Homo sapiens: one gene and its partners. The protein of the gene in region 2 purifies or fractionates together with the protein of the main gene of each other region. This does not show direct contact. Each region holds a gene or a part of one and is shown on either strand. Other genes may lie near its edges.

Evidence for each region.
Region 1: the proteins of ASB18 (region 2) and ABLIM1 purify together in Homo sapiens (affinity purification with mass spectrometry, with the first as the bait; one large-scale study listed by BioGRID). This does not show direct contact.
Region 3: the proteins of ASB18 (region 2) and ASS1 purify together in Homo sapiens (affinity purification with mass spectrometry, with the first as the bait; one large-scale study listed by BioGRID). This does not show direct contact.

The regions. Positions count from the first base shown.
Region 1 is NC_000010.11:114,648,223-114,651,876, forward strand, and holds part of ABLIM1 (actin-binding LIM protein 1), read right to left. Parts: intron 1-3,654. UniProt on the Homo sapiens protein: May act as scaffold protein. May play a role in the development of the retina. Has been suggested to play a role in axon guidance.
Region 2 is NC_000002.12:236,254,319-236,257,972, forward strand, and holds part of ASB18 (ankyrin repeat and SOCS box protein 18), read right to left. Parts: intron 1-3,654. UniProt on the Homo sapiens protein: May be a substrate-recognition component of a SCF-like ECS (Elongin-Cullin-SOCS-box protein) E3 ubiquitin-protein ligase complex which mediates the ubiquitination and subsequent proteasomal degradation of target proteins.
Region 3 is NC_000009.12:130,454,807-130,458,460, reverse strand, and holds part of ASS1 (argininosuccinate synthase), read right to left. Parts: intron 61-3,654; coding exon 1-60. UniProt on the Homo sapiens protein: One of the enzymes of the urea cycle, the metabolic pathway transforming neurotoxic amonia produced by protein catabolism into inocuous urea in the liver of ureotelic animals.

The DNA of each region.
Region 1 (3,654 bases), on a different chromosome or scaffold from region 2:
TAACAAGTGTTCATAGCAGCATTATTCATAATAGCCAGAAAGCAGGAACAACACAAATGACCATCGGCTGACGAAAAGATAAAGAAAATGTGATATATCCCTACAATGGGATACTATTCAGCCATAAGAAGGAATACGGTATTGATAAATGCTACCGCCTCGATGAGCCTTAAAAACATTATACTAAGTAAAAGAAGCTAGACACAAAAATCACAGGTTACATGATTCCAATCAGATGAAATGTCTGGAATAGGAAAACCCACAAACACCTAAAGGAGATAAGTCGTTGCCAGCAGCTGAGGAATGTGAGTCATCAGGGATGTTTTCTAACGGGCACAAGGTTTCTTTCTGGGCTGATAAAAATGCTCTGGAATTAGATAGTGGGATGGTTGCACAACTTCGTGGTTCTACTAAAATGCACAGGCTCGTAAATGTTAAAGTGGTGAATGTTATGGTGTACTACATTACATCTCCATTTTAAAATGTATGAAGTACCTTTACTTACCAAGCACTGCGTTATAGTCTGAAGAAACCACGGAAACAACTGTCCTGCCACTAAGGCACTTACTACCTGGTAGGGAGACACGCAAACAAACAGATACAAATAGCCAAGCATAGAGGTGCTTGGATGGGCATTTGTGTGGTACACAGCAGAGCCCAAAAGAGGAGAGGTCTGGAGAGACTCCACAGGAAAGTTTCACCCGAGCTGAATCTCCAACTGAACTTAAAAAAAAAAATTAATAATCCTTTGGTCTTCTCATGTAATATCAAACAGGGAGAGAGGAGAGCTAGGGTCTTAATCTAACACTACCCTCTGATTATACCATAGACCTTAGGAAAGTCATTTACTTCTCTGGACCTCAGTCTCTTACTTCCTACAAAAGTAAGGTGTTGGCTGGGCACGGTGGCTCACACCTATAACCCCAGTGCTTTGGGAGGCCGAGGCGGGCAGGTCATTTGAGGTCAGGAGTTCAAGACCAGCTTTGGCCAACATGGTGAAACCCCATCTCTACTAAAAATACAAAAATATTAGCCAGGCATGGTGGTGCATGCCTGTAATCCTAGCCACCCAGAAGGCGGAGGCACAGAGAATCGCTGGAACCCGGGAGGCAGAGGCTGCAGTGAGCCAAGATCACACCAGTGTGCTCCAGCCTGGGTGACAGAGCAAGACTCTGTCAAAATAAATAAATAAATAAATAAATAAATAAATAAATAAATAAATAAATAAATAAAGGTGTTGATATCAAAGGTTTATTTCTACCTTTGAGAAATATCTAGAATCCTCGTGCATATCATATCATAGTCTATCTAAAATCCTGACATACTTAAATCCTGATTCTGCAAAGGGTTTCTCTAGTGTATTCTGGGTGTGCTGCTTTCTGAGATTGAGAAAGGAATCTTCCTGCTGGCTACCTCTACACGCCCTAACAAACAGCACACAGACTATGCTTCCTTCCTGTTGGCAGCCTTCATCTTCCACCCCAGGGACAGAATCACCCATCTGCTGACCACGTATTCACCTTATATTACCTTCCTACTGGTAGCCTTCGTCTTGTAGTCCATAGACAAATCAAGCCTGTGCTGGCCACCTGTCCACCCCAATGAGTAACACACAATCCATATCCCCCCTCTTTTTTTTCTTTTTTTTTTTGAGACAAAGTCTCACTTTGTTGTCCAGGCTGGAGTGCAGTAGTGCTATCTCGGCTCACTGCAACCTCTGCCTCCCAGGTTCAAGCAATTTCCCAGCCTCAGCCTCCTGAGTAGCTGGGACTACAGGCGCCCACCACCATGCCAGGCTAATTTTTGTATTTTTTAGTAGAGACGGGGTTTCACTATGTTGGCCAGGCTGGTCTCGACCTCCTGACCTCGTGATTCACCCATCTCGGCCTCCCAAAGTGCTGGGATTACAGGCGTGAGCCACTGTGCCCAGCCTCCACACAATCCATATTCCCTTTCTGTTAGCAGCTTTGTCTTGTACCCATGGCCGTCACAGGTCCATGGCTGATTTGCCAAGTTAACAGGAGTCCATCCATAATAATCAGCACTGGGTCATGCCCCAGAATCATTAGGATCAAAGGATGGGAAATCAGGGATTTCTTTGAAAGTAAGCCACTCTTAGTAAGATTCAAATTTGTTTAAAGCCTGGATTAAAACAATGCCAAACAATAAACTTAAACAGACTGCTTTACCCTCTGACTTTAAATAAGATTAGTTTTTAAGTACATTTAATTAAAACGAATGGGGCATTGCAGCATATTTACTCACTCAAGGAAGTAATTTACATGGGAACATTTCATGTGAAAATAGTTACTTGCCCACATTCCTAGGACTAAAAATAAAATAAACAAAACAAAAAGCAACCATCAATAAAACAAAAAAAAAGCTGGACCAAGTAGATTCAGCCAGTGGAACTAGGTGAAAAGTGTCTTACTTCTACCTTTTTCTTTCCACTCTCAGATCATTGGGCTATTTTCCTTTTACTCGTATTTTGGGTAAATCATATCTATTTTACAGCTCAAATCGCAAATCCTACTTTCTCTTTCCCTTCAGTGATATTTCTTTCCTTTGAAAACTAATTGTATTTGTTATCTAGACAATTATTCAACTTCTCACACATTTGGGTGAGAAGAAGAGGGGGAAGTATTTATCGAGCTCCAACTAAATGCCAGCATTTCTAAAATACGTATTTTCTCTTAGGGCTCATAATACCGCTGCAATGTGGGTAGTATTATCCACATTTTATATACGAGAAAACTAAGGCTCGGACATATTAAGTCACTTGCCCAGGTCACAGAACTGCAAAGAGCAGAGCTGGACTTTGAACTTGGCAGCGAGGTCTGACCCCATAACCCTGAATTTGCAACCAGTTTGCTTTGCAGCTTCTCCTGGCCTCAGCTACTTGAAGGCAGGGGGACAATTTAATGCCGAATTGTATTCTTCGAACATAGTGATTTGATTTCTGCGAACATTCACTCATTCATTTACTCATCACTCACAGCTTTTTTTCCATGCCAGGTACTATAATGGAATAAAAATAAGAGCACAGCTCTCTCCTTGCCCTCAGAGAGGACCTCAGTGTATGAAAAGGGAGAAGCTTATAAACAGGCAACTTGAACAAAGATGTGCAGAGGATGCTATGAAAACACAGAGGAGGACGAGGCAAGAGGTAAGATCAGGCCGGCCCAGAGGAGGAAAAGCTTAACCTGCAGCCTGCTGGGCCTCAGAGAAACTGGGGAGACTGTGCCAGGCAGCAGAATTGCACATACAAAGAGAGGCCCAACGTGAAAGCATCCTTCAAACATCTGTGACAAAGAAGACTGATGCGGGTGTTTGGGGGTTAAGAGTGGGACGTGATAGAAAGGCTTAACCGTCAAGAGCTTGAAACGTATGATTCTGGGAAATATGATTAAACTAATGGAATGAGAAGCCTAGGGAATTGAAAAGGGGTTATTGGTAACTATAAATAAAAAAAAAATGCAAACTATCTAATGCTTTCCCAAATAGCTGAAACCTCAAATCCCTCTCCATTCATGCCCTTGCAAGATGTAGAAGTAACTGGCCACCACCTATCATCTCCATCCTCAGGAGAACAAAAGTTAAAGTAAGACTGCTGTTTGGGGGGAACCATATCCCATCAACAAACCGGATGAGGCC
Region 2 (3,654 bases):
GTTTCACCCCTTCACTCCCATGGAATCTGCTCTCTATTCTCAGAGTAAACCTGACTCAACAACAGGAATTGAGCACCCAGGCATGCGAGCCCACACAGCTGACTCCCTTCTATCAACTCTGCCCTTCTTCTGGTTGGCTGAACTTCTTGAATCTATAAAGTTACATTTTTTACCACTAAATTTGGGAAACGTTTGGTAGTTATTTCTTTAATCATATTTTTCCACCCTGTTATTATTCTTCTCTTCTCTTTCTTGCATTTAGTTGTGTATGTTAAACCTTTTATTTTGTCCCACAGATCCTGTTCATTTAATTTCCCATCATTTTACTTTCTCTTCTTCAAATCAAATATTTTTCTATTGATGTTTTCAAATTTGCCGGCTCTGTCTTCTGTCCTCTTCCATCTGCTGTTAAGCCCATCGTTGATGGGAACAAGACCAGCCCTAGCTTCAAGGGAAGTGGGTGATCGGGTTTGGATTTGTGTCCCCGCCCAGATCTCATGCCAATTATCATTCCCAATGAGGGTGGTGGGGCCTGGTGGGAGGTGATGGGATCATGGGGGCGGAGTTCCCAGGAACGGTTTCCTGCCATCCGCTTGGTGCTGTTCTCAAGATAGTGAGTTCTTGTGAGATCTGGTTGTTTAAAAGTGTGTAGCACTCGCGACCCCACTCTTTCTCCTGCTCCTGCCCTGTAAGCTGCCTGCTCCCCATTTGCGTTCCGCCGCGACTGAAAGCTTCCTGAAGTCTCCCCAGAAGCCGAAGCCGCTACGCTTCCTGTACAGCCTGCAGAACCGTGAGCCAATTAAACCTCTGGTATTTCTTTCTTTTTCTTTTTTTTCTTTCTTTGAGACGGAGTCTCATTCTGTCGCCCAGGCCTGAGTGCAGTAGCGCGATCTTGGCTCACTGCAACCTCCTCCTCCCAGGTTCAAGCGATTCTCCTGCCTCAGCCTCTTGAGTAGCTGAAATTACAGGCGCCCACCACGACGCCCAGCTAATTTATATATTTTTTGTAGAGACGGGGTTTCACCATGTTGGCCAGACTGGTCTTGAACTCCTGACCTCAGGTGATCTGCCCCCCTCGGCCTATCAAAGTGCTGGGATTAGAGGTGTGAGCCACTGCGCCTGGCCTGGTATTTCTTTATCACAATGCGAGAACGGACTAACACAGTGGGGAGATGTATTTCTTTTTCAGGTGGGCACATTGCATGCCACAGGGATTTTGCTGGTAAAGCAGGAGAGGAGGGTGGCTGTGAGGGAATAGCTAGCAGCTGGTGGCCTCTCCTGGCACCTGTCCTTTCTCCTCTATCTTCTGCTTTACCTAAGTAAAAGAGTCAGGTGTTTTCTTTCCAAATTAAGATGACCTCATTCCTTTGCTGAATGGCTCCTCATGGCTTTTCCAAGTAAGTGTAAACACCTGTGCCTAGAATGTGTAGCCTCAAACAATATCGTCCCAATCTCTTTGCCTGGGGCTTCCTCTCTTCTCTGATTTACACACCCAAGTCCAAGTTGTGTCCCACTTCCCTGTCCCACGTGCCATGCCTTGGGTGCACTACGTTTCCTGCTCGCCTCCCTTTATCTGGGCTTCCTTCCTTTGGATCACAGCCTCCCAGGAACATGCTCCTGTTTCGAGGGTCAAGTCAGAGGATTTCTACAGTGTTCTCCCTGTGCTATTTGGTGCATTAATATTTATTTTTTATTTATTTATTTTTAATTTCTATGTATTCATTTGTTTTTTGGAGACCGGCTCTCACTGTTGCCAGGTTGGAGTGCAGTGGCATGATCACGGTTCACTGCAGCACCTTCCAGCTTAAGTGGTCCTCCTGCCTCAGTCCCCCAAGTAACTGGGACTATAGGTGTGTGCCATCATGCCCAGGCTAATTGGTGTATTTTTTGTAGAGATAGAGTCTTGCCATGTTGCTCAGGCTGGTCTCAAACTCCTGGGCTCAAGAGATTCGCCCACCTTAGCCTCCCAAAGTGCTGGGGTTACAGGCATGAACCACCATGCCCGGCCCATAAGTATTTATTAGGTACCTAGTATGTGCAGGATGTGGCAAATAAGACAAACCTAGTCCCTGTCCAATATCCAGGTGCAGAGGTTGGCATTAAAAGATAGTGGGGCATTGGATGGGAAGCTAGAATCAGGCTACAGAGAGCATGCCTGCCATTTCCAATTAGTTCCTTCGGAATGTTTACTTCTCAAGCAGAGCACTTGTGGCAGGAAACTGTCGTCATCTCAGAAAGGTAGAAAAGCCTCTCCGCTATTATTCTCATTGCTTTTTGTTCTTTCCAAACTCTCCAGTGTGCTTGGGGATGATGTTAATAGATGGATGTCATCAGCATACATTATTTCTTTATTAGCCCGTTTCTCAATTTTGATTCTGAAAATACCCTGATTTAGTCTAATTGCAATTTCACTGTGTTCCACAGGCAGTGACAGTTCATACTTGGGGGGAGCTGAGACGCGACCCTGTAGGATTTTTTTTCTTGTCCATATGCCTTTGAAGCCGGACCATTAGCTCTAAGGCATGCATCTCATCTCATCACAGTGTCATTCAACCTGCTTCTGGGGAAAAAAAAAGAGCCTAGGGTGTGTGTCTCGTAGAAAGCAAAGAAACATTTTAATTCTAGGTGGTGGGAGATATTTTTCTGTATTTAAAGAGAGGGCTGCTGCAGCAGCCATTTTGTTCCTAAATAATTCAACTATATTCAAAGATAATCTGATGTTATTGTAGGAAAGTGTATTTCTAATAAATTCCACTTGATCTGGGTGAATCAATTCAGGCAGCGCATAATTGAGTCTGTTAGCAAGGACTTTAGCAAGAATTTTGCAATCAGCGTTAATTAAGAAGATGGGACAATAATTTGTGCATAATTCCGGATCTTTTCCTGGCTTGTGAATCAAAGTAATAAGAGCAATGCTCAGGCTGGTGGTGGGATAGTGTCATTAGGTGCTGATTTATAAGTACTTAGAAAGGTTTAATTTCATTTTGCTTCGAGCAGGGTCTCCCTGCCCCCACGCTCTCTGGTGGAGTGAGCAGTCAAGACAGCAGAGCGCTTCTCCTCCTGCCTGCCCTGCCGTGGGTGACCTCTCGCTTCCCATTTCTGTTTTTATTCTCCAGCCTAGCACCCCACTTACTTGCCCATGATTTTTTGGGATTATTTTTGCTCAATGATTTGAAACCAGGGACTCTATCTACTGAGATTGTGTGCACGTGTGCATGACTGTGTGTGTGCGTGTGTACATATGCATATGTATGCTTCATGTCAGATTAAAGGGTTGTAGACAGCTTCACTGGGAAGTTTTTTCAGGGACGTTCCTGCAAAATGTCTCTGGGTGGGTAGGCAGCAAGAGCCCCTGACTACAAGTCAGGAAGCATACCTGCTCCTGCTCTGCTCCTAACTGGCTGTTGACCAGCAAGTGAACACAGGTGAGCAGCAGTGTTCCGGTCTGTAGAACGCAGCTGTGGGATGAACTACAGGTGCCGTGGAGCACGGGAAAGGGCACTGGGTTTACAGTGCCAATTGTCTGTGGAACCCAAGGTGTGTCATGCAACTTCTCCAAGCCTCATTTTCCTCAGCTGGAGGAGTGGAAAGGGGAGAGCTCTTGGAGATGCTCTCACCTGTTCTCCAGGGAACAGCAGGGACTTGCGGCATTGC
Region 3 (3,654 bases), on a different chromosome or scaffold from region 2:
CTGGATGGCCGGCCAGATGAACTCCTCCACAAACTCCCTGCTGACATCCTCAATGAACACCTACGGGAAGAGGAGCCCAGAAGGAAGAAGTAGGCAAGGACAGGGGCCATCTGGCATACAGAGCCCCAGGGGCCTCAGCTAGCTGAGACCTATACGGGGCCACCCCCGCTGTACCTGGTGCTTCTTCTTCTGCATCTGTAGTAGACATCATTCATCAATCCCAGCACACTGCACTGTTACTCTCCCTCCTGCACTCATGGCAGACATTGCTAATCAATAGCTCTCTTTTTTTTTTTTTTTTTGAGTCGAAGTCTTGCTCTGTTGCCCAGGTTGGAGTGCAGTGGCTCAGTCTCAACTCACTGCAACCTCCGTCTCCCAGGTTCAAGCAACTCCCCTGCCTCAGCCTCTTGAGTAGCTGGGATTACAGGCGCATGCCACCATGGCTTGCTAATTTTTGTATTTTTGGTAGAGACGGGGTTTCACCATGTTGGCCAGGTTGGTCTTGAACCCCTGACCTCAGGTGATCCAGCTGCCTCGGCCTCCCAAAGTGCTGGGATTACAGGCACAAGCCACCGCGGCCAGCCTGCTAATCAATCCTGATGCACCGTTCTGTGAAACTGGATGTGGCTTCTAAATCAGCCCCAACAAGATGAAACTTAGTTGTCACCTAAGATCTCACAGCAGTAGTTCCCAACCAGAGACGGTTTTGTCCCTGTTGGGGGTGGGAGTAGGGGAGGCATTTGGAAGTATCTGGAGATATTTTTGGTTGCCACAACTACCAGGTGGGGGGTGGAATTCTGGCATCTAGTGGGTAAAGGCTATGGGGATACTGCTAAAATCCTCCCGTGCACAGGACGGCCAGCCACACGGGAACAAGGCCAAGACTGAGAAACCCCGATCCAGAGGAATGGTTCTTGAAATGTAGACCCCCAGGGGTTCCCAATGACTTTTCAGGGAGACACTGAGTGAAAACTTTTTTTTTGTTTTTTTGAGACAGGGTCTTTCTCTGTCATCCAGACTGGAGTGCAGTGGTGTGATCCTAGCTCACTGCAGCCTCAACCTCCTGGGTTCAAGCAATCCTCCCACCTCAGCCTCTTGAGTAGCTGGGACTACGGGCATGTGCTACCACGCCCGGCTAAGTTTTTTATTTTTTGTAGAGATGGGATCTCACTGTGTTGCCCAGTTTTCTTCATAAACTTCAATAAAACAAGGCATCACATAGCGAGGAAGCCCTGGGAGGCTAAAAAAGAAAAACAAACAAACAAACGAAAAAACAAGTGAATGCAGAAAACCGCTACAAGAGTCCATCTGTTTTCTGTCAAGCCAGACATTACAGAGATTTGCAAAAATGGAAGCCAATAAGATTCTTAACTAAAATTTTTTGTTTGAGAAAATAGTTATTTTTCATAAGTGTAATGTTACTTATGTTAACATGAACTGTTCATTTAAAACATTTCAGCTTTTATTTCTAATGTGATAAATATCAACAGATGTAATCCACAAAAGCTCTCTAAGGCCTTCAGTAATTTTTATTTTTTTGAGATGGACTCTCTGTCATCCAGACTGGAGTGCAGAGGTGCAATCTTGGCTCACTGTAACCTCTGCCTTCCGGGTTCAAGTGATTCTCCTGCCTCAGCCTCCCGAGTGGCTGGGACTACAGGCATGTGGGGTTTCTCTACTAAAGAAACTAGGCTGGTTGGCCAGGCTGGTCTCAAACTCCTGACCTCAAGAGATCTGCCCACTTCAGCCTCCCAAAGTGCTAGGATTACAAGCGTGAGCCACCGCACCCAGCCAAGGCCTTCAATAATTTTTAAGAGTCGAGAAATTCTTGGTACTGCTTTTGCAACTTCCTGTGTCTATAATTATTTTGAAAAAAATCCTTTTAAAAAATGAAATAAAAAGGCATAGAAAAGAAAGCAATTGGGACTAAGGATATATAAAAAACATTAGGATAAATGTGTTTTTGTGTTTGTTTGGTTGGTTGGTTGGTTTTTTTTACAGAGTTTTGCTGTTGTTGCCCAGGATGGAGTGCAATGGTGTGATTTCAGCTTACTGCAACCTCCGCCTCCTGGGTTCAAGCGACTCTCCTGCCTCAGCCTCCCGAGCATCTGGGATTACAGGCACCCACCATCGCGCCCAGCTAATTTTTGTATTTTTAGTAGAGACAGGGTTTCACCATGTTGGCCAGGCTGGTCTTGAACTCCTGACCTCAGGTGATCTGCCTGCCTCAGCCTGCCAAAGTGCTGGGATTACAGGCGTGAGCCACTGTGCCTGGCCCATCCTAATGTTATATGCAAGAAAATAAACATTAAAAACGCCACGTAAATTAGAGTGTAGAGGATTCCCAAGACCACAAGTTTTGAGAACTGCTCATCTAGAATAAAGGACAAAAGCTGAAGCCGTGCACAAAGCCTGCTCCTGCGCTGCTGAAAGCGCACTCGAATCTTCAACACTCAGGGCTCTTTCTCCCCTTCCTGGACTACTGCTCAGACAACCCCTCTGCTCTCCAGCACTCGGGAGGCACAGAACCAAGGAGGGACATTCTAGTTCCAGGCCTGTGGCCAGTAGGTGACTTGGGACTGGGGCATCCACTCCCTCCCGTGTTCATTTTAACATGCTAATTACCCTGGCAACCCTGCAGAAGCACCCCACAGAGGGGATCAGCTCTGACCCTGCAGGTGGGCTGGTGGCCTTGCACATCATCCCTGCTATGTCCCCTGCTCACTCTCCCAAATGAAGGGGCACAAGTGGCAAGGGCTTCTCCATGGGGAGTGAGCACATGTGAGCAGGGGTCCTGATGACACTGTTCATCATAAATGCCCTGTATGGGACAGGGGTCTGCCTGCCACATGCCTAGATTCACAATCAAGGCACCAGACTCAATTGGAGTTCTCTGATTCTGTTGAATGAATGGAAGAATGGGTAGACAGAGAGATAAAAGAGGGAAGGACAGGTAGGGGGATGATGGACAGAAGGATGGATGATGGATGACAGATGGATGGATGGATGAATGGATGGATAGAAAAACGGTGAATGGATGAAGGATGGATGGATGGATGGGGGATGGATAGATGAATGGCTGGCTGTCTGGATGAATGGATGGATAGACAGTGGAGGGATTAATGACAGATGGATATGTGGATGGATGGATGGATAATGAAGGGATGGATGGGTGAATGGATAATGGGATGGATGGATAGATGATGGATGGATGAATGGATGGATGAATAGACGGATGGATGATGGATGGATGCATGGGTAGATGATGGATGGATGAATGGATGATGCATGGAAGGATGAAGAATGATGGATGGATGGATGGATGATGGATGAATAAATGGATGATGGATGGATAGACGGATGATGGCTGGATGAATGGATGATGGGTGAATGGATGGATGGATGGATGATGGATGAATGGATGGATGATGGATGGATGGATGATGGGTGAATGGATGGATGGATGATGGATGAATGGACGGAGGATGGATGGATAGATGGATAGATGGATGATGGATGGATGGATGAATGGATGGATGGATAATGGATGGGTGGATGAGTGGATGGGTGATGGATGGATGGGTGGATGGATGATGGATGAATGGATGAATGGATGGATGGATGGATGATGGGTGAATGGATGGGTGGGTGATG